Homo sapiens: one gene and its partners. The protein of the gene in region 2 purifies or fractionates together with the protein of the main gene of each other region. This does not show direct contact. Each region holds a gene or a part of one and is shown on either strand. Other genes may lie near its edges.

Evidence for each region.
Region 1: the proteins of VIPR2 (region 2) and RABGAP1 purify together in Homo sapiens (co-immunoprecipitation; 3 studies listed by BioGRID and IntAct, with this or other methods). This does not show direct contact.
Region 3: the proteins of VIPR2 (region 2) and VPS8 purify together in Homo sapiens (co-immunoprecipitation; 3 studies listed by BioGRID and IntAct, with this or other methods). This does not show direct contact.

What each region holds. Positions count from the first base shown.
Region 1 is NC_000009.12:122,936,650-122,944,032, forward strand, and holds the start of RABGAP1 (rab GTPase-activating protein 1), read left to right. Parts: upstream 1-4,370; 5' UTR 4,371-4,444; intron 4,445-4,489; exon of another isoform or gene 4,490-4,599; intron 4,600-7,383. UniProt on the Homo sapiens protein: May act as a GTPase-activating protein of RAB6A. May play a role in microtubule nucleation by centrosome. May participate in a RAB6A-mediated pathway involved in the metaphase-anaphase transition.
Region 2 is NC_000007.14:159,141,853-159,149,786, forward strand, and holds the start of VIPR2 (vasoactive intestinal polypeptide receptor 2 isoform 1 precursor), read right to left. Parts: upstream 3,016-7,934; 5' UTR 2,920-3,015; coding exon 2,869-2,919; intron 694-2,868; coding exon 594-693; intron 1-593. UniProt on the Homo sapiens protein: G protein-coupled receptor activated by the neuropeptides vasoactive intestinal peptide (VIP) and pituitary adenylate cyclase-activating polypeptide (ADCYAP1/PACAP).
Region 3 is NC_000003.12:184,807,908-184,815,178, reverse strand, and holds the start of VPS8 (vacuolar protein sorting-associated protein 8 homolog), read right to left. Parts: upstream 3,014-7,271; 5' UTR 2,954-3,013; exon of another isoform or gene 2,893-2,953; intron 2,673-2,892; exon of another isoform or gene 2,390-2,672; intron 1,435-2,389; exon of another isoform or gene 1,312-1,434; intron 1-1,311. UniProt on the Homo sapiens protein: Plays a role in vesicle-mediated protein trafficking of the endocytic membrane transport pathway.

The sequences.
Region 1 (7,383 bases), on a different chromosome or scaffold from region 2:
TTGTTGATGACTGAAGTGCAGGTGCAGAGGCAGGTTGCCACTGTTTTGACCCCCCACCAGCTGAACCTCTTTCCAAGGGTTTTAAAAGAATAGCACCTGTTTTGTTTGTTTGCTTCCCTTTTACTCCATTTATGAGTCAGATATTGAAGGATTAGGATATTCAAAAGCAATCACTTAGGCAGGGGAAAGTAGAAAGCTACTGCATATAACCAGGGAAAGACACAGGCTAAGAAAAGACCTGAGAAAACCTTAAGCTTTCACCCGAGGCTGATCCTGATCCCCAGCACAGAGACAATTACAAAAGCCCAGCAAACATGGGGGCAGGAGAATCTTATTTTCAGATTCACCACATTATGAGATTCAAATGTTCAATTTTCAACAACAACAAATCATAAGGATTTAAAGTGAAGCCAAATGTGGTGGCATGTGGTTGTAGTCCCACTTAATTGGTTGTTACTGGGCAACATAGTGAGACCCCATCTCTAGTTGAAAAATAAAATTTTTAAAAAAATCACAAGACATACAAATAAACAGGAAAGTATGGTCAATTCAGAAGAACAAAATAAATCAACTCAAACTATTCCCACAGAAGCCAAGATAGATGTCTGAGTTAATAGACAAAGGCTTTAAAACAACTATTTTGAAGTCGTTCGAAGAACTAACAGGGCTGGGCGTGGGGTGGCTCACGCCTGTAATCCCAGCGCTTTGGGAAGCCAAGGTGGGCAGATCACCTGAGGTCAGGAGTTCGAGACCAGCCTGGCCAACATGGTGAAACCCTGTCTCTACTAAATACAAAAATTAGCTGGGCATGGTGGCGTACGCCTGTAATCTCAGCTTTTCAGGAGGCTGAGGGAGGAGAATTGCTTGAACCTGGGAGGCGGAGTTTGCAGTGAGTTGAGTTCCTGCCACTGCTCTCCAGCCTGGGTGACAGAGTGAGACTCTATCTCCAAAAAAAAACAAACAAACAGAAAAAGGACTAAAGGAAGACATGAACAAAGTCAGGAAAACAATGTATGAATAAAATTAGACTATCATTAAAGAGAAATTATAAAAAGGAGCTGAGGCCAGGTGTGATGGCTCATGCCGGTAATCCCAGCACTTTGGGAGGCCAAGGCTCGTGGATCATGAGGTCAGGAGTTCGAGACCAGCCTGGCCAACATGGTGAAACCTCATCTCTACTAAAAATACAAGAACTAGCTGGGTGTGGTGGCATGCCTGTGTTCCCAGCTACTCAGGAGGGTAAGGCAGGAGAATCACTTGAACCCAGGAGGTGGAGGTTGCAGTGCACCCAGATTGCACCACTGCACTCCAGCCTGGGTGACAGAGCGAGACTCTTAGAAAAAAAAGGAGCTGAAATGAAATTCTAGACCTGAAAGATACAGTAACTGAAATGAAAAATTTACATAGAGGGGTTCAAAAACAGATTTGAATGAGCAGAAGAAAGAACCAGCAAATTTGAATATATTTCTTTGTAAAATACCCGCGGAACCCTGTTCCTTCGTTTTACCTCCTGCTTCCTTAGCTCAAGCCTTCCTCATCTTAGGCAGCCTCCAAACTATTCTATCAACCTCCCCTTTTCCCTGCTCTAGTTTTACTAGAGTGATCTTTAAAAAAACCCCAAATCTAATATTGTCACTGTCCTTTAAAATATCCAAGGGCACCCGTGTGTCTATAGAGTGAACTTCAGTTTCCTTATTTTAGCATTCAAGGACCTTCCTATTTTGGCTCCAGCCTACTACATTGCTTTATTTCACACCAGCCCCACATTCCATTCATATACTGTAACCACATTTTCTTGGGTACAAAGTCACTTACTGAAAAAAAGTTGAGCATATTTGGAAACCAAAATTCATTTTCTGTGAATGGGATATCAATATATAGCATTGGTAGGCATTGAAACAGACTATAGTCTATTTTTAAAATGGATTAGATGATAAAAACAACATGTATGTCATCACTAATCCAGTGGTCAATATTAGCATAACTCTGTAAGATACAATAAATGTTATATCTATTGTAGATACAATGTTATGTATCTAACATAATATCTAACATGTTAGATTCATAACGTTGTATGTAATATAATGAAACATGAAGTATAACCTGTCACTTGTGAGGTATACTAGTCTGATATGTTTGACTTGAATCCACTGAGTCTTCAAATATAACTTTCTTGTTCAAGAAATACAAGGCTTGCAGGAACAAGCTCAATGACTTCATGAGGAAGCAACCACTCAGATAAAAACATTTTGCACTTCAAGTGGCCTGATTTCTACAGTGAACAAGAATCTTTTAATTTTTTTTTAAGTGCCATAATTAAAAAGTCAAGGGATGTAACCAGATGGAATGTATGGTCCTGAATTGGATAATTTGGGTATACTGGTTGTAGAAAAATATAATTTGGTCAACAGAATATTTGATTGTAGTTAGGTATTATGTGAGAGGAAATTTTCCTGTAACATTACTGAGTTAAGAAAGCCAACTGTAAAAATAACTTTAGATGGATAGAAAATGTGAATGTGATCTAGGAATTAGGTGAGAAGAAAATGTACTGAAATAAGGTAGATATTTTTAATTGAAAAAGGAGATGACTAAAGTGATCTCATTTTGAAAAAAAAAATACACACACACAGAAGGATATACTCTAAAGTATTAACATTGGCCCTGGGAATGCCATGGTTTTTTTTTGTTTTTCATTAAAACATAGAGACACGGTCTCACTATGTTGCCCAGGCTGGTCTCGAACTCCTAGGCTCAAGCCATCCTCCCACCTCAGCCTCCCAAAGTGTTAAAATTACAGGCATGAGCCACCACACCTGGCCTTTTTTATTAAAAAAAATTTTTTTTAAATGCAATGTTTTCTTTTTTTGTTGTTGTTTTAGCTTGTGTCTATTCTCCAAAGCATGTTGTACTGATTGTGTAGTACAATTTTATTTAAAAATGTATGTTAAGATTTACATAAATATTTGGGGTGTCCATGAATCAAGAAATACATGAAAGTATGGGCACCAAAACGTTAAAAGTGGTTTTGTTGGGAGTTCAGGGGATTTTACTTTCTCCCTAATACTTTATTCTTTGAATATCTTGAAATGGATATTTTGTAACTGTATAAGGAGAAAGGAAGCGAAACTATTTTTCTGCAGGGGTACACCCACATCTATTGTATTAGACAAATCACAGAGGGATTGCAACAGAACACAGATTTTTCTCACTGTTTTTTCTCTGGTTGATCGGGATGCATTATCCACCAGAAAACACTGTAGACGACTCACTCACCAGGAAAAGAGCATATGCCAGTTGGAATAAATAAAGGGGAAGAGTAAGGAAGAGGCTGTAGAATTATTTTATAAATTATCAAGTCTTATGAGCCAGGTGCAGTGGTGCATGCCTATGTACAGTCCCAGCTACTCAGGAGGCTGAGGTGGTAGGATAGCTTGAGCCCAGGAGTTCGAGGGTGGAGTGTGATATGATCGTCTGTGAATAGCCACAGCACTGCATCCTGGACAAGATAGGGTCTCTTTAAAAATAAGACTTAACTAGCACTTTAATAATCATTGTTTTTGTTCCCAACTGCATTGTACATTCATTGAGGACAGGGACTTTAAACTTCATTATATTGCTGTTGCTGTGTTTCACCTTTGAATGATTTTTAAATAAAAATCTCATCTTTGAGTCACAATCTGATGTAACCTTGTCCATTTCTGTCCTCTTGTGTGCCTTAAATGCCTTTAGGCAGCTGTGTTGTACCAGTGGTTTTAGGACTTGGCAGTCGGAAGTTTTGACTTCTAGACTGGATTCTGTAACTAAAGCTAAATTACTTTATAAAAGGAGAAAAATGGTACCATTCTGACGGGTTTGTGGTGAAGCTGAAATGAGATAGCCACATAAAGAACCATCACAATCCCTGACACACCGTGCGCCCTCAGTAAATGCCAGGTGAATTTTATTACACTGTGAAGTACTGATTTTCAAACAGGACTTGCACATGAAAGGTGAGCAGGGGGATTCCTTGCTCAAGCACCAGTACTCTGGGGTTGTACCCTTTGTTAGGCTCAACAGGTACTACCCAGTCCGCTTCCATCGTCCCCAGTCCCGGCTGCAGTCACGTAGTTGGCTGTCCAACTCCAAATACACAAGACAGCCCAGGTCCAGCTCACAGCCAGTGCACTTCGCGCAGGCGCACAGTCCTGAGGCGGGCTGAAAGCCCAGGTGGGGCTCGGAGAAGAGGAAGCTCCGCCTCGCTTCCCGGTATTGGGCCAATAGGGTCGCTCGTCATGGTCGCAGACCTATGAGACGGGGCAGGGGGCGGGGCGGAGGGCGGAAGAAGTCGCTCTCACGTGAGTAAAGGGGTGGGGGGGCGGGGACAGGGCGGTTTGGGAGGCCCAGGCGGCGGAGCCTCCGGGACGGCGAGCGGCGGGCGGCGGAGGAGGAGACGGCAGGTCGGGTAGGGCCGTGTTTCCCCTCCTCCTCCTCCCACCCTCCTACCTACCAACCCCAGGGGTATTTTCCGACGGCCCCTGCGGGGAGCCAAGCTGTCTTCTCATCCCGCGGGGTCGGGCCAGTGGAGCTGCTCTCAGCTCCCTCGACGGGCCGAGTTCTGAGGGGAGCCGTGATTGGGGGGAGGGGGAACTGCGACGGAGGGGAGAGGGCGCATGCGCAGGCTGGGCCGCTCTGGGAGCCCCTGCCCAAACCGGTTCCCCCTGTCTGTGTGGGTGCCGGTCTTCTGAGTCTTGCGTTTTTGGCCCTCCCTCTGGTCCCCCAGCAAAGCCGGTTTGTGTCTTGACTTTAATGTTTTATGCTTGGTCCTATTTGGGAATCCAGCCGCTCCCCCCCGCCTCAGTTTCTCCCCATTGCTCACTAGGCCTGTATCTGTGACTTAAGCTAGCCTGGGCCTCAGGCTGTCCTGGGCTGCGCCTAAATTTCAAAGACTTGCTAGTTTTCACTGTCGCTTTGCCATCTCAGGTTGGTCTTTCAGTCTCATTTCCCCGTCTGCAATTAAAGCGTTCTTGGCATCCCAGTCTTCTCATCTCCTTGAAGCAGCTACCCCAGTACCTCATCGCTGTGTCTTTTGATTATCCGCACCCTTAGGGTTTTACGTGTTGAGCCAAAGGATAACCTCAAGACTTCCAGGAGTTCGCTGTCCATTGCCTGGTAGTACTTTGGTCTCTGCTCTTCTGCATCCAGACTGTTTATCATCTGCTCCTGCGTTTCACGCATCTGCATACCTTTGGTTACTCGAGAATTCTTTTTTGGAAACAAATGTCCTAGGAGACCGTGTTAAGTGATCATGCTGCTAGTGTTCCCGCTACTAGTGCTCCGTTAGTTTTAAATCATGTTCCAACTTGAATTTGAGGTCTTTTGACTTTCGTTGGCTTTTTGTCAGGGAAAAAAACCTGTTAGGGACAGGGTTTCACAATTCCTTTTATATTTCCATTCACATGTATTTACAAACGTGTGCCTGGAGTAGTAAGTACACAATAAGTGAGTTTCCAGCTGTTTTTGTTTCGGAAACAAAAAACAAAACAAAACAAAACAAAAAAACAACGGAAGGTGAATGGAATTGTGTTTGTAACATTAAACTGATGTTTGAAAAGTAGTTGGGAAAAAAAGCTTAGGTACTAAGGAGGGTTCATCCAACTTTTTTTTAAACGAAGGACGTGTTGCCTTAGTTCAAGTTTGTATAAGGTGCTATTTAATATGTATTGAAGACTTAACTAGAGCTTACTTATGAAAACTGAAAATAGGGGCCGGGTGCGTTCACGCCTGTGATCCAGCATTTTAGGAGGTTGAGGCGGGTGGATCACAAGGTCAGGAGTTCGAGACCAGCCTGTCCAATATGGTGAAACCAGGTCTCTACTGAAAATACAAAAATTAGACGGGCGTAGTGGCAGGCGCCTGTAGTCCCAGCTAATCGGGAGGCTGAGGCAACAGAATCGCTTGAACCCGGGAGGCAGAGGTTGCAGTGGGCCGATATTGTGCCATTGCACTCCAGTCTGAGCAACAGAGCGAGACTCCGTCTCAAAAAAAAAAAAAAAAAAACACAAAAAAACAAAATAGGGAAGAGAAGTCTTTATAAATCTTCCTGTGTAGAGTTCACTTTGTATTAATAAAATTTCAATCCATGATTGATTTTTATGTATTGGTAACATTTAAAATTCATATGTAATTTTAATTCAAGATATTAACTCAGATTCATAATTAAAGTTGAAATATTTGTGGCGTGAGGTGATTCATGCTTGTAATCCCAACACTTTGGGAGTCTGAGGTGGGAGGACTACTTGAGTTGAGAAGTTCAAGACTGCAGTAAGCTATGATGGGTGCCACTGCACTCTAGCCTGGGTAACACAGCCAGTTCCCATCAAAAAATAAAAAATAAAAAAACAACAAAAAATCTGAGATATAGTCATGTTGTGGTGCACTTTCTTTTTTTTTTTTTTTTTTTTTTTTTTTTTGAGACTGAGTTGTGCTCTTGTTGCCCAGGCTGGAGTGATCTTGGCTCACTGCAACCTCCGCCTCCTGGGTTCAAGGAACTGATTCTCCTGACTCAGCTTGGGATTACAGGCGTGTGCCACCACGCCTAGCTAATTTTTTGTATTTTTACTAGAGACGGGGTTTCATCATGTTGGCCAGGCTGGTCTTGAACTCCTGACCTCAGGTGATCCACCTGCCTCAGCCTCCCAAAGTGCAGGGATTACAGGCGTGAGCCACTGCGCCCGGCCACACTTTCTTTTAATTGAGTGTTATGATTCAGTTTACAGTTAACGCATTGACATTAATAGGTATATATTTGTTTGGAAAGTTAACCTATCAGCTATGTGCATTTTGGCATTTTTGGCATAGTATTTTGTTTGCAGTTTATAAGAGTTGTAGTAATGTAGTGGGAACAGAGACACCTGTTTCCTACCTTTTCTGCTGCATATTGAGAGAACTGTATTATGCACTTTATCTACATGAGGGGCATGGTTTTCCACACAATTTATTAACTGAACTTTGTAGCCCAGCTTCTTTTAAAGAAGTCTGTTGGCTGGGCGCGGTGGCTCACGCCTGTAATCCCAGCACTTTGGGAGGCCAAGGCAGGCGGATAACAAGGTCAGGAGATCGAGACCATCCTGGCTAACACTGTGAAACCCCGTCTCTACTAAAAATACAAAAAATTAGCCAGGCGTGGTGGCAGGTGCCTGTAGTCCCAGCTACTCGGGAGGCTGAGGCAGGAGAATGGCGTGAACCCGGGAGGCGGAGCTTGCAGTGAGCCAAGATCGCACCACTGCACTCCAGCCTGGGCGACAGAGTGAGACTCCGTCTCAAAAAAAAAAGAAGTTTTTGTTTTTTATTCAGTATATTTCCAGCTAAAGGAAAGCCTCCTTTGGAGGTCTCATTATTTCC
Region 2 (7,934 bases):
CTACTATTTATAGGCCGGGTGCTATCCCAGGGCAGAGTCTATAAACAGGTTGATAGCAGGCCCTGTTGGAGCATGATGGCCCAGCATGCCTCTGTCAAACCGGAGAAGGCGATCTGCACGTTCACAGTGTTCACCGCAGGCCCGTCTTCAGCACAACCAAAGTCCCATTTTCCTGTTTGCTTTCTGCCAAGTACCCACCATCCTTAACCAGATCAAAATCATCTGTCCTATAGCTAAGAATTTAAAATGCAAGAATTCAGATAAATGCTTATCCCCTGGAAAACTGAAGCTGCTTTTGCAAAGCATAACAAAGCCCATGAAATTGTTTTAGTAACTGTTGCTATCATCTCAAACCATGGAAACTGTTACTGCTAAGGATTAAGGTTATCTTTTTAAAGGTGTGTGTGAAGACCCTACCTATCCAACTCTCTCTGAGTTTTACCAGTAGTTCATTAACAAACAATGGGAAGTGGCCTTTCTTTTTCTTTTTTTTTTTTTAAGATGCAGGTGGTGACCCTGAACCACAGCTGAGTGAGGCGCATTCCCGGGTGAGAATGTCACGGGAGTTCTTACTCACCAAGCCTCTGCCTTACCTTTGTGTTTTTCTGTTTGAGACCTCAGAAGCTCTGCACATTTTGTTTCTTCCTCCTGTATTTCCAGATGAAATCGGCATTCTGGGTGAATGCTGTTCACCTGTTCACGGTTAAAAGAAATATTAATAACTAAAAATTCCACAAGAAGAAGAAAAGCAAGCAAAAATTCTACAAAAACAACCCCAAACCTCACAGCTTTAAACTGCTTCCAAACCAAAATGCATTTAAAACCAATCACCTTGATTTTTCTGGCATTTTTTAAAAACTTCACTATTTACTTTGTAAAGGTATTATAAAACAAACACAAAATCTAATAGAATTTTTTTTCTGAGCAGGAAAATGAACTTACTAACAGAATACATCGGTACTAATTTGGAGGCAACAGAGCTCTTTACTCCATTCATCTCTCCATACCCGGCTCCTCCGTTTCACACCCTTTGGTTTGGTTTAAGCGGATGCCTGTGGACTGTGCCGCTTCCTCCGAGGACGGCCTCCACCCGGGAAAGAGCCGTGATAGAAGGGCTTTATTTTTAAAGGTGTTGGTACATGTTCAAAGCTTAACCCTCTAACTACAGATAAAACTGCAATCGTTTTGACTAGAATTTGGGGTGGAAGAGATATTCAAAGAAATCAGCAAGATGAGGAGGGAGGCAGAGGTGGGGGAATCACACCATTGTGGCCCCACAGAGAAGAGGGGGCGATTTCCAGTCAGGATCCATCAGGGGAGCGAAAGGTGCCACAAAGATAGTAATTAACAGTCTACTAATGTGAGAAGAAGGCAGAACTACACAATGCTTCCTCTCAGAAGGCACCGTTTCTACCTTGTTCTTCACGCCCTCCGCGAAGTCAGCACAGGCCTGCCAAGCGGCCCTTGGGGGCTTAAGGAGGGCTCCCCCCACCCATCCTTTTGGTCTTGATCTTCCCCCTCCCCCACCACCGACCAAAATTCTACTTGTACTAAAGTAGTAACTAAAGAGAATCATACTGTTGGGCGTACTATGGCCATCTATGTTTAGTTATCTTACTATTGAAATGGTCAATGAGAGTTCCAACCAGGAACACAATATCCTAACAGAATTAAGGGGAAAACAATGCTGGAACTTCTGCCACCTTCAGCCCCATTTAAAAGAGCCCCGAGCTTGCTTCTTGCTCGTGACTGAACCAGCACCAGGCACTGACTTTGGGCTCCAAGTCCTCTGTTTTCATGCAGGACAAGTAAGTGGCTTAAATTTCAGAATTAAGGAAATTATATTGATGTAAAAAGAAAAACTTTGTTAAAGTGTAAAAGACATTAATAATACCTGACGTTCCTGGAATATGCACAGCAATGACTTCTTTTAGGACATTTTAGCAATGAAAGCAGCATTAACCGTGATAAAACCCGTTACTTTCCAAGGACCCGCTCCGCAAAGCGCCCACCCTCGAGGGAGGAAAGCCGAGCTGCGCCTCCGCGCAAGGCCAGGGAGTGTGGCTCGAGCCCCGCTGCAGACCGGGCGTCGCCGGTTAATCAATGACACTGTCGGGTCAGCAGCGCAGCCTCCCAGCTGCGGAGGGGCCGCGGATCGATCCAGACCTGCCTCGGCTGCGACGCGCACGAAAACCGCGCGCACCGCAAACCCGCTTCAGTCTCCAAGAGGAAAGCAAGAAACAAGGCTCGGGTTTTTTTCTTTCTTTTTTCTTTCCTTTTTTTTTAAGGTTCACAGAGGGAATAATTCAGAACTCCATGTGCGAAGGCACTTAATCAACAAACTTATGAGCAGTTAGTTCCTCCAGTGCCCTTGGGAAAAAGCAACTATTTCCAAAAGGAAACTTTATTTAACCGACGCCACGTCCCCCCGACACTAAAACTAACCAGTAAGTACAGGGAGGGACCGAGAGGCATCTGCGGCCAACGCCAACCCCGATCTCCCCGTGAAACGCGCAGCCCGCGCAGGCGCCCGCAGCTCCCAGCTCCCGGGACGGCCCCGAACGAGCTCATCGTTGACGCGTCCAGGAAGAAACGATCCCGTTTCCAGCAAACCCCGGACGGTGGGGCGCGGGGAAGGGCGCAGGCAGCCTCCCAACCCGAGTCCCGCAACCCGGCGGGACCGGAGCTCAGCGCTTCACGCTCTCCGGGAGGAAGCTCCGGACCCCGGGCGACCCCGCTCCCTCTCCCGGACCCCGCCCGCGCTCCAGCACCCGGGAGGAAGGCGAAGACCGGCGGGAGGAGCGCTCTTCTCGGAAGGGGAGAACCGGGTCCGAGGCGCCGTGGGGCGGGGGTCGCGGGCGCACTCACGGGGGCGAGCAGCCAGCAGGTCAGCAGCGCGGGAGGCAGCAGCGTCCGCATCCCGAGCTCAGCGTGCCGGGGGCCGCCCAGCGCCCGCCGCCTCCGTCCTAGGTCCCCGCGGTTCCGCCGCCTCCAGCATGGGCCGGGAGCGAGTGCGCGGAGACCTCGGGCCCCGCAGCTGTAGCCGAGCGCCCGAGCGCGGGGGCCGCCCCCTCCGTCCCGGCAGCTGGAGCGCGCTCAATGCACGCCCGTCCCCCACGCGCCCCGCCGCTCCGCCCCCCGCCCCTGTCCCCGCCCCGCGCTGCCCCAATCCTCGTCTCCCTCCTCCCCCGAGAACCCCCGCTCCGCGCCCCTCCTCACCGCCCCCCACTTCCCCTTCCGCTGCGCCCCGCGCCCTCTCCTCGCCCCTGGGCTCTCTGTCCCCGCCGCGCGCGCTCCCTCTGGTCTCCTCGACCCCCCCAGCCTCTCTCTCCGTTCTCCTCCCCTCTTCCCTGGCCCACGCCCCCCTCCCGGCCGCGCCTCCCCGATCTGTGGGCGGAGGGGCTGGGAAGCGGGGTGCTCAGTGCGCGCCCGGCTCCGAGTAGAGAGAACTGGGGGAGAGCGGCCGGCGCGGGGCCGGGAGAGGAGGACCGGGCCAGGTGTGCGCTCGGAAGGGGCGGATGCCTTTGCGGCCGCCTGTACCTGCCTTTCTAAACAACTGCGGAAGCCCAAGAAAGCGGCCAGAGACCCGTCCGGGGTGGGCGCGCCGTCTTTGTAGCCAGTGGGGCTAGGTTGGGGCATCTGAAAATGGAGAAAATCAGAGTGCTTTTTGGTGGGGATCCCCGCAGCCTCAAAGAGGACATCAGGTCGAACAGAAAGCTGGAGAAAAACGCAGACGGGGGTATAGGTGGGTCCCAGCCTCAGCTGGGTGGCGGGTTTTGTGTCCTGCGTTTGCAAAACGGGGGTCATTCTCTCCCCGCAAACGCGGCGGCGGGTGGGGAACGCTGGGCGGGGACTCACGCGGTGCCACTGGGGCCGCCCCGCCGCGCCCCACGCGGGACTGCGCGGCCTCCCAAGGCGCCCGCGTGACCAACCCAGGAGAGCTCGGCGTTCCCCAGCAAGTGGAAAGCACTGGAATGAGAGATACAAGTTAAGTTCGTGTTGTTTTAATTTTTTATTTGGAAATAATTTCAAACTTACACAAAAATTAGAAGAATAAGAATATTACAAATAACTCCTTTTTATCCTTTTTGTGGATTCGGTCATTAACATTTACCTCATTGGGCTTATCATTTGCTTCTCTCTGATCCCCCACCCCCCGTATTCACAGATATCGATTTTTCTATCATCTGATGTTTATCATCCACATTATCTATCATCTACCTATCCATCATCTACGTATCATCTATCGATCTGTCATGTACCTATCATCTATCATCTTCCTATCGATCATCTATCTGTAATCTGTCATCTATTATCTGTCATCTATCATCTACCTGTCCATCATCTACCTTTCATCTATCCATCTGTCAGGTATCTATCATCATGCGCCTATCATCTATCATCCACCTTTCCTCTATCACCTACCTGTCATCTATTATCTATGATCTATCCATCTATTATGTACCTATCATCTATCATTTGCCTATCTTTCATCTGTAATTTACCTATCTATAACCTGTCATCTACCTATTTATCATCTATCATCTGCTGTCATTTATGATCTATCCATCTATCATGTACCTATCATCTCTGTATCATGTATCAATCAGCTATCATCTACCTATCATCTCTCTGCGATCTATTACCTATCTATTACCTACCATCTACCTATTTATCATCTATCATCTACCTCTCTGTCATTTATCTATGATCTGTCATGTACCTATCATCTATTATCTTCCTATCGATCGTCTATCTGTAATCTATCATCTATTATCTGTCATCTATCATCTGCCTATCCATCATCTGTGATCCGGCATATCTGTGATCTACCTGGCTGTCATCTATCAATCACCTATCATCTGCCTATCTGTCATCTGGCTGGCATCTATCAATCACCTATCATCTGCCTATCTGTCATCTGCCTGTCATCTATCAATCTATCATCTGCCTATCTGTCATCTGCCTGTCATCTATCAGTCTATCATCTGCCTATCTGTCATCTGCCTGTCATCTATCATCTGCCTATTTATCATCTATCTGTGATCTATCATATCTGTGATCTGCCTGTCATCTATCAGTCATCTATCATCTGCCTATTTGTCATCTATCTGTGATCTATCATATCTGTGATCTGCCTGTCATCTATCAGTCATCTATCATCTGCCTATCTGTCATCTGCCTGTCATCTATCATCTGCCTATTTGTCATCTATCTGTGATCTATCATATCTGTGATCTGCCTGTCATCTATCAGTCATCTATCATCTGCCTATCTGTCATCTGCCTGTCATCTATCATCTGCCTATTTGTCATCTATCTGTGATCTATCATATCTGTGATCTGCCTGTCATCCATCATCTGCCTGTCATCTATCGATCATCTATCATCTGCCTATCTGTCATCTGCCTGTCATCTATCCTCTACCTGTTATCTATCTGGCTTCATCCATGTGTATCTAGTGGGAGACGAGGAGAGGGAGACCTGGGCCTTAGGCGGGCTGCTTGGCTTGTGAAGAAAGCTCGTGGCGCTGGGTGCCTTCGACAAACGCATCTTTTTCTCCCGGTTCCACCTGGGTGAGCGATGAACTTTGAGCTCTATGCATTTGTAGGAATGACAGCACCTGCCCTTCCACCGCAGAGGGGCTCTGTAATAATCAAGGTGATTAATGCACACGTCAATACCTTGTTGAGGGCCTGCATTTTAGAAGTGACTGTCCAGGGTGCAGTGAGGGGTTGCATGATGGGTGAGTCTTCCCCTGCAGCAGTGCGTCCCGATGGACGGGGTAGACCAGGAGAAATGGCTGTGGTCGTAGCTAGATGGCACACTTCTCTGAAGGTCCAGTGTGTGTGTAATCACGGGCTTTGCTGAACACCCCAAACCCTGCGGTTACCTGATGCTCTTAGAAAAATGACCAAAGTTCTCAATATGCCTTTGTAAACAAAAGATAAAATTCTAAGCCCCCCAACCAACTTAATGGACTCCCCTCTTGGCCAAAGGGATCCCAAAGAAACCTGAAAAACGAGTTCAGGCCATGACAGGGAGAGGGGGTTGGGCAGGCCTCACTACACCCTCCTTTCCTGGAGTTCATGACCAACATTAACATAAAAACAGAGCTCCTAAGGCTGACCAAACAGACTGTTCATAGCAATAAGATAGCAAATTCCCACCAGACTCTAGTAGAGCATCACATGACGGCCAGCAGGCCCTGAAGAAATATATTTCTTTGACAGATTTTGAAATGGCCCAGCAAAGCTGTCTGTTGGGGAATCTTGCACTCTGTGGAGAATCCCTGTCCGTCACTAGGTCTTTCTGGAGAGTCTGACACCTTTCAAGGCCCTGATAGTAGACATTCACATTCACTCTCTCTGAAGCCTGCTAGCCGGAGGCTTCATCCACAAGAACCTTGGCTTCCACAACCCCCTTTATTTTCACTCAAGCTGATATCAAGTCTTCAGGCAGATCTTAACTCTGTTTTACCCAACGGCCAATCAGGAAATCCTGTAATCCACCTGTGACCTGGAAGGCCCCACACCCCGCTTCAAGATGTCCCACCTTTCTGGGCCAAATCAATGTATACCTTCCAGATATTGCTTTATGTCTTTTCTTGTAACTTCAGTCTCCCTAAAATGTATAAAACCAAGCTATACCCTGTCACCTTGGGTGTGTGTTCTTGGGACCTCCTGAGGCTGTGCCCTGGGCCATGTCCTTAACCTTGGCAAAAATCAACCTCTAAGTTGATTGAGACCTGCCTCAAATACATTTTGGTTTACACCTTTGAACAGGCAACCACCTGCCATGCTGGGCCTGGCCTGGCTTTGCCCATTGCCCCAGCGTAACCGTTACTCGTGTCCCCCTATTCTTGGAAATGTCCTGGTTTGGACATATTATGTGAAGCACATGGTCACCCTACATGCGAGGCCACACCTGATCTGGGCCTGAGTCTCCTCCTGGACCCGTCTCGCAGCCTCCACTCTGCCTCTCATGCCTCAGCCTTGCTGATCTCTGGAAGCCCCAGGCACGCTCCGCCCCAGGCACCCTCCACCCCAGGCACATGCCTCCCAGCTTCCACCTGTCTTGGCTCAGGTGTCTGCCTTAGGAAAGCCCTCCCAGTCTGGAGAAGCATCCTGCCTTTCCTCGCTGGGGCAAAAGCAGAGACCCTTGGACATATCTAAGCAGAGTTTAGTGCCAGGCCAGCCGGGGACCCTACTCAGCTCAGCAGGAGGCTCAGCGATGGAGGCAGAGCAGCTGGAAGAACATCTCAGATGGTTTGTCCAAGAGACGGGCACACACCAGTGCGTGCCGCAGCCTGCCCGGGTCCCCCTCCCACCCCAGGCAGGCACACACCAGCGCATGCCATAGCCCTGCCCGGGCCCCCTCCCACCCCAGGCAGGTGGGGCTCACAGAGACAGGCCACCAGCCTCTCCCTTCTGCTTCTGACCAGTTCTTCCAGGAGGTGTCTCTTTCTCCTCTCCTGGGGCCCTGACTGTTGCCATCCTCCAATTTCTCAGACCAACCAGGCTCAGAGTTCTTTAAACTTCCCTTTACAAGGAGGTGTTGCCACTTTCTTGGAGAACTATTCTTAGCTTAATATAATATGATGCGATAGGATACAATATTTAGAGAGATTATTTGATGTCTGCCCCTCCAGTGAATGCCCAGCATTGTGGGTTTGTACAGCAGGTGTTCCCTGTTTGTTGATGAGCAAGTGGGCAGATGTATGAGTTACTCCTGGTTCCACTCACTCCAGTCTGGAGGGTTCAGCCAGCGGCTGCCAGGACAGCAGGGCCCCACCCTGAGCACTCGCCCTCAAGCCCAGCCCAGAGCCCACGCTTCGGCTCCACAGGCAGGGAGCAGGTCAGTGGGGCTGCCCTCCAGACCCTTCCCCTCGCCAGGGCGTCCTCACTTTCTGGGTTATGCTCTCCTCTCTGATTC
Region 3 (7,271 bases), on a different chromosome or scaffold from region 2:
TTAGCTGTAAAACAGTTTCAGGCAGGTCCTTCAGGAGGTATTCCAGAAGGCACTGTTATCATAAGAGATGACAGTTCCCTATGTGTTACTGCCTCTAAAGACATTCCACCGGGACCTTCCTGACTCTGTGTAGGCCTAGAGTAATGTGTGTGTTTGCGTCTTCGTTTTTAAAGATTAAAATTTTTTGAAATAGAAAAAAGCTAACAGAATAAGGATATAAAGAAAATATTTTTGTACAGCTAATTGTACAATGTGTTTGTATTTTAAGCTAAGTTTTATCACAAAGAAGTTAAAAACTTTTTTAAATTAAAAAGTTTATAACATAAAAGTTACATTACAGTAAGCTAAGGTTAATTTATTATTGGAGAAAGAAAAAATTTTTAATAAATTCAGTGTAGCCTAAGTGTACAGTGTTCAAAAAGTCTACAGTAGTGTACAATAATGTCCTAGGCCTTCACACTCACTCACTACTCACTGCCTCACCCACAGCAACTTCCAGTCCTGCAAACTCCATCCATGGTAAGTGCCCCACACAGGTTCACATTTTTCAATCTTTTAAACTGTATTTTTACTGTACCTTTTCTATGTTTAGATATACAAATACTTGGCCATTGTGTTACAACCACCTACAGTATTCAGTACAGTAACATGCTGTGCTGGTTTATAGCCTAGCAGCAACAGGCCATCCCACATAGTCTAGGTGTGTAGCAGACTACACCATCTAGGTTTGTGTAAGTACACTATGATGCATGCACAATGACAAAATTTGCCTAACCACACATTTCTCAGAACATATCCCCTAACTGTCCCATGACTGTAACAGGAAGAATGAGGCTTGCAATTACAGTTGCAGAGGAGATAGGGAACTGGGGGTTACTGGTCCTTTGCAGAAAGGGAGAGAGACACAAGTACTCCATCACTGGAGTCACTGGATTTAGTGATATAGTGATACCCCAGCCCCTTCCAGGTTTGGAGCCAATAAATCCCTTTTAGCTTAAGCCCATTTGAATTTTCTGTCACTTGCAACAGAAATATCTTTGACTAAAAAAGTATAATTGCTATTACAGTAAACCTAAGAAATTCATAACAGTGAAAAATCCAACGCAAAGCTATATTTCCTTGCTAAAACACAGAACACATTTAATAATGTCATACAGCGTGAAGATAAGTCAAATATTCATTCAAGATTCAGTTAAGAATACAACAGTTTGATCTTACCACTATGTACCGATGACACCTACAGCTGTGGATCAAGAGAACATACGATCTAAACTCTATGAAAGCTATCAATAGATCCAAAGTTAAACATACTTCATTAAATTCAAAAGATCTTACTTCTCATTCACATACATAACTGACATTTTGTGTCACACTGGTTGAAATGTCAATGGAATAGTGAGATACAGCTAAGAATCACCAACATGTCCCAATATTCTGGAAGACAGAAAACATCCATCTGCTGACAATGGTCCAGATACGAAGCAAATATATTAAATATAAAGAAAAAATCAACATATTACTCTGTTAGAGCTCTGGAAAGAATTTTCTCACAAATGCCTCTTTGACCATATAAAGCCCAGTAGTTCAACGAATTTTTTTTCCATTTATCTTTATTGCATATTCTATGGAACAGGCCAGCTATTGCCAGAGGATTCAATACCTATTCTGTGCTTAAATTTAACCATGAGCAAACCCACGTCTTACACAAACATATGCAGATTCTCCATCCACATTTATATTAGATATACCTCAAACCCACACAGGCAGACATAGACATACACAGACAATTAACATGTAATTGTCTCCCAAATGCAGACATTTGGAGTAAGGTTTAGCACCACAAGCTAACATCCATGCTTGTTTTGCTTGGGTTTTGGGGTTTTTCAGTAGGGGAAAGTAGAGTATGGTAGAGGGTGGATGGTGCAGAGGCCAGAAGCCTTCCTATTCATTCTAACAAGAATCTAAGAAGTGGAGGGGGCCTGCTTATTTAAAGAAGGCTCCCCAGCTAGCTATTCCTGATAACCCACGGCCATGGAACCTCTCACCGATCCTACCTCCTCCCACCCTATCCTCCTGTAAAGCACCCCCATTTTGTACACCCAGACACTCTGAGCAGCTGTTTCCCTCCTTCCCCAGATGCCAAGCACAAAGAACTGGCCAAGGCACAGGAGTAGCCTCGAACTTCAGAGGCCCACCTTTCACCCTGCTGCCCTCACTCTGGTGCACAACTTGCACGCGGAGACAAACTGGAACCAGCCTCACAGGGTGCGCACCGATCCTAAGAGGTGGACACCCCATCTAAGCCTCAGGCTCAGGCACCTTGATATCAGTCCCTGGAGGCTAAAGGGGTCCACACCTGTTTCCCAGGCCCGACAGACCGGCTACACACCTGTTCCGCCCGGGAGTGGGGAGGGGCATGACACCCGCCGCCTAGGCTCACAGTCGGGGGAGCGGGCGCGCCAGTCCCTCAGCCTAATTGCCGCACGACTGTAACAGGACAGAATGAGGCTTGCAATTATAGTCGCAAAGTAGATAGGGAACTGAGGGGTTACTGGCCCTTTGCAGAAAGGGAGAGATACACAAATACATCACCGGAGTCACTGGATTTAGTGATACCTCAGCCCCTTCCAGGTTTGGAGCCAATAAATCCCTTTTTACTTAAGCCCATTTGAATTTTCACATTCATTTGGAACCAGTAAGTGGAAATTGCCCGACCCAGTTCCGGGCCAACGTACGACACGCCCCTCCACTCGAGAATCAACCCCGCCCGGCCCGTGGCTCGGGTCCGGTTAGCCCGTCAGGGGCTGCTCTGTTCGCTCCCCGAGGTCCCGCCGCTGTCGCGCGGGGAGGAGACGCCGAGGCTCAGAGACCTGTCGCGCGCTCTCCTCCTACCCTGAATACGGCCCCTCAATCCTGTCTCCTTCCACGGGCCCGCTCTCTGGAAACTCGTTACCTGAGCTTGCTGCCATTCCGGCCGTGGACCGCCGGCCCACGTGACCGCACCCACTGCTCTAGCCTCACGCACGCGCACTACCTACCACTGCGGGCAGCGCTTCCGCTTTCCTCCTCGCACTGCTCCCCCTCCTGGGCGGTCCGCGCCTCTTCACCACGCCCCTATTTAAAGGGCCAGAGATACGCCGTCTTCCCCCCTACGGAAAAAATGGGTGATTCACATCTTGAGGACCAAGAGAATGGAAACGTCGAAAGAGTAGCGCAGACAAATAAATAACAGTCCTTGAGGTGAGAGGAGAAAGCTCCTCCTTTAAGAAAGTGAACTTACTTGCAGCCAGCCCAGAAGGGAAGTTGATTCCCTGCCTTTTGGAGTTTGCAACCAGTAAATTTTTTTTAACTTTTTTTTTTTTTTAAAAGATGAACTCAGAATTGCCTATTTATTGTGTCAAATAAGTACAATAGGCACACACATACTAAAATACCAACTATTATCTTGTAATATATCATCAGTGTTGCTCCCCAAAATACATCTTAACACCAAAAATACAGGAGAAACATAGTCTCAAATAAAGGAAACATCTGAAAAATGAACAAAAACGTATGCTTATTTCTCTTATCGCTCCTGAAGAAAGGTGAAAGCTTTCAGAACAGACTGGTTTCTAGAGTCATCACTGTACGTAACATTAGCCCCAGGACACAGATTTTAGGCCTGCTGGGGGCTATATAGGTCAAGAAAACAGGAGGAAGAACACCAGAAGATACTCTTGGAAGGAGATACAGAAAATATTCGGTTGGGCAGACATTTTTGAGCATCAGCTAGGTTCACTAGACTTCTGGGCCTTCAGAAGACCCGAAGGTGTTGCCCTGTCCTCCAGGTATTTATTTTCTAAGAATTCAGTGTACAGACATAACAAAATACAAGGCAGGCTGTTTTGAGTAATATAAAGAAAGACATTGAACCACCATTTTCGCACAGACAGGGGGAAAGGGTGAAACACTCAAGGAAGGATGTGGTATCTTGTCAGGGCCTTGAAGGATTTCAGTAGCAGAGAGCAGGGAGAATGCCTAGCTGAGGGAAGGGTGGGATCAAAGGCAGTACAAAGCAAGTTTGGGAACTAGTTATTGGCCTGATGTAGCCGTGGTGTGGCCAGTGGCTTTCAACCTTCTTTTAATCATCCCTCACAGTAAGAAATACATTTCAGGCCAGGTGCGGTGACTCATGCCTGCAATCCCAGCACTTTGGGAGGCTGAGGCAGGTGGTCAGGAGTTCAAGACCAGCCTGACCAACATGGAGAAACCCTGTCTCTACTAAAAATACAAAAATTAGCCAGGTGTGGTGGCATGCACCTGTGGTCCCAGCTACTCGGGAGGCTGAGGCAGGAGAATTGCTTGAACCCAGGAGGCAGAGGTTGCAGCAGTGAGCCAAGATTGTGCCATTGCACTCCAGCCTGGGTAACAGAGTGAGACTCCGTCTCAAAAAAAAAAAAAGATACATTTCAGCCATGGCCTAGTATAAAAACACACACAGTATGCGCATATGTGTGAGTGTGCATTATAGATAGATAGATAGATAGATAGATAGATAGATAGATATGCTGAAACAGTAATTGCCCTTAGAGTGTACAATGCAACTTGGTATTTTCTATTCTATTCTCTTTTTTTAAGTGCTGGTTACTGAATTCATTTCAGTACTCAGTGATGCAGAGCAACCCATAGTTTGAAGACACTGGTGTAGTGTGTATTAGAGATGTGGTGGGCTATGAGGCTGGAAAGGCTAGGACCAGATCCAGGAAGACATTGCACGCTAAGCTGGGGTGTTCTGCTCTTCTGGTGAGAGTCTCCAGAGGAACTCGAGCAGAGGAGTGGCAAGATGATAGCTGTGCTTTAGAAGGCTGGAAACCGGCCTTTGGTTCTGAATATCACATTTTTCTAGTAAAGCTATTAAACTAGAGACTGTCTACAGAAGGATAAGCAAGCTGGTGAGACCAGAAAGCCTGTGTGACAGAGAACTTTTGAAAGTATCCAGAGGAAAAGAAATTAGCAGAAGTAGGGGAGAGCAGGGTCATAGGGGTGAGCAGTGGAAAGGTAGCTATTAGGTTGGTACACAAGTAATTGCGGTTTTTGCCATTACTTTAAAAAACTGACCCTTTTGAAATATCTCTGCAACACTCATAGACTTATTCTGAATAGCTGTAGAAAGAAAGCAAGCCTACGACCTGTGTATGGACGTTGCAGAGAGGCAGATTTCAACTTATAATAAAGAATATTTTAGGATGGTCCAGACTGACTCTGAGACCTCTCCAAAGTAACAGCCCTTTTATGTACCTCTGTTCACAGCAGGAAGTAATCTCAAATGCTATCCTTTCCAGGGCTGTTTGCCTTAATAATAATAAAAAAAAATGTGTGCTTATTGTAGAAAACTTGGAAAATTCAGGAAATATTTTAAAATAAAGCAGAAATTACCCACATCCCAGAAAAAGGCACTTATAGTTTTGGCTTATCCGTTGGATCTTTTTCTTTGTATATTTACATTTGTGACATAATAGAACTGCATAGAATATTTAGTTGTGTATTCTATATATTTATAGGATATATAGTTAATAATCCATCCTCTTTTTTTCACTATTATATCTTGAGCACTATCCACCATCACTAAAATTGTTCACAAATATTATTTGTCATGGCTACATAATTATTAATGATATAGTTTCATGTATTTCATTATTCCACTATTTTTGGACATATACAGGAGTTCCTATTTTTTACTGCTAACAAGAACATTGCCATGAATATCCTTACACATTATCTTTGCCCACATTTTAAAATTATTTCCTTCCTTAGGCTAGCAACCTATAAGTGGAATTACTGATTCAAAGGCTTTGAAAACTCTTAAGTCTGTGAATACCCGTGGTCAAACTGCCTTCCAGAAATGTCAGGCCAGTTTTCATTCTCACCAGAAGCTCTCAGTGGTGCCCATCACACGCACCCCCACTGGCATTTATTTTATCTTAAAAAAAAAAAGATTTGCCAATATGATAGATGAAATGGTCTCTCATTTTAACCTGTATGGGATTACTATTGGAGTGGAATATCTATATAAATTTATCAGCCCTTTATAATTATTCTGGGAATGCAGTTTCACTGCTGGATTTGTGATTGCAAATAGTACTGAGTGAATTGTTACAGACTTGTGAGGAAAAAAAAACAGAGAATGATGTTTAAAATAAATGATGTGGTCACACCAAGTTATAGGCAAATTATATTGTGGTGTGCTGCACTAACAAAGGGTAGTGGGAGAATTGAGTCATCACACAGTATTACAATATTCATGTGAATATTGGCTCCAGCAAAATATCATTCCTTATATTAAATCAAAATTGTAGATTTGCATTTCCTCATTTGGTAGTTTTGTTTGTATTCAATTTATTTTTTTAGTTTTATAGATGCATAAAATCTATAAAAATCAGGAGCTCTTAGTTTTGTGTTTGCATATATACATACACATATATGTATGCAACATTATAAAAAATTATAAGCTAACTCTAGATATCTGTGAGAATCTTTTCCCCTTACAAAGGATCTGAACGATATCCAAGTTTGAGAAACAGTGATACTGGAATTTCTTAAAGTTTCATTTGTACTTATCTAAACACAGGTATTGAGATTTTTTTGCAAGGCAAAATTTGCATCAGCTTATATATTGGAATTTTTCCATATAGAATAGTGTAATGATTTTCTTCTTTTTGGAAAGAGTACCAAAAGCTCTACTATGTTTGGGGTTCAGAGAGTATGTTTTGACTTAAAATGTACCATTCATCAGTTAACTTTCTACAGGTCAGTAAGACCTAGACAGAAGAATGTTTGTGTTTACTAAACTTGTAAGTAAGAGAAAGCAGTTGAGCAGATAGTGATTACAATGGAGCTTTTGTGAAGTGGTCTTAAGAGAAATTAAGCCAATGAGAAAAAAGGTTGCATGTGAGCTCTCAGAGCCTTGGGAAGCAGTGAGGGCTGGCCTGCGGGGTGCACAGGAGCTAGAAGAGGGCGCCACTGAGGGCTGCCACAGTTGGATGGTGTCCTTACACCGGCTCTATTGCCTCCAGCTCTCCCCAAGAGTGAAGGATGCAGACCTCGACCCAGACATCACTATTACCCCTGCATCTAGAATAAGCCACATCTCTTCTGAAGGAAAAAAATGTCTGTTCCTGAGAGCAAAAGGCAGAGAATAGGAGATGGATGCCTTTGTCATTTCTTTTTTGCTCACAATCACAAAATAAACTGGCCTCTTTTCCTTTTTTAAAAAGGGAACTTGTTGGAGCACA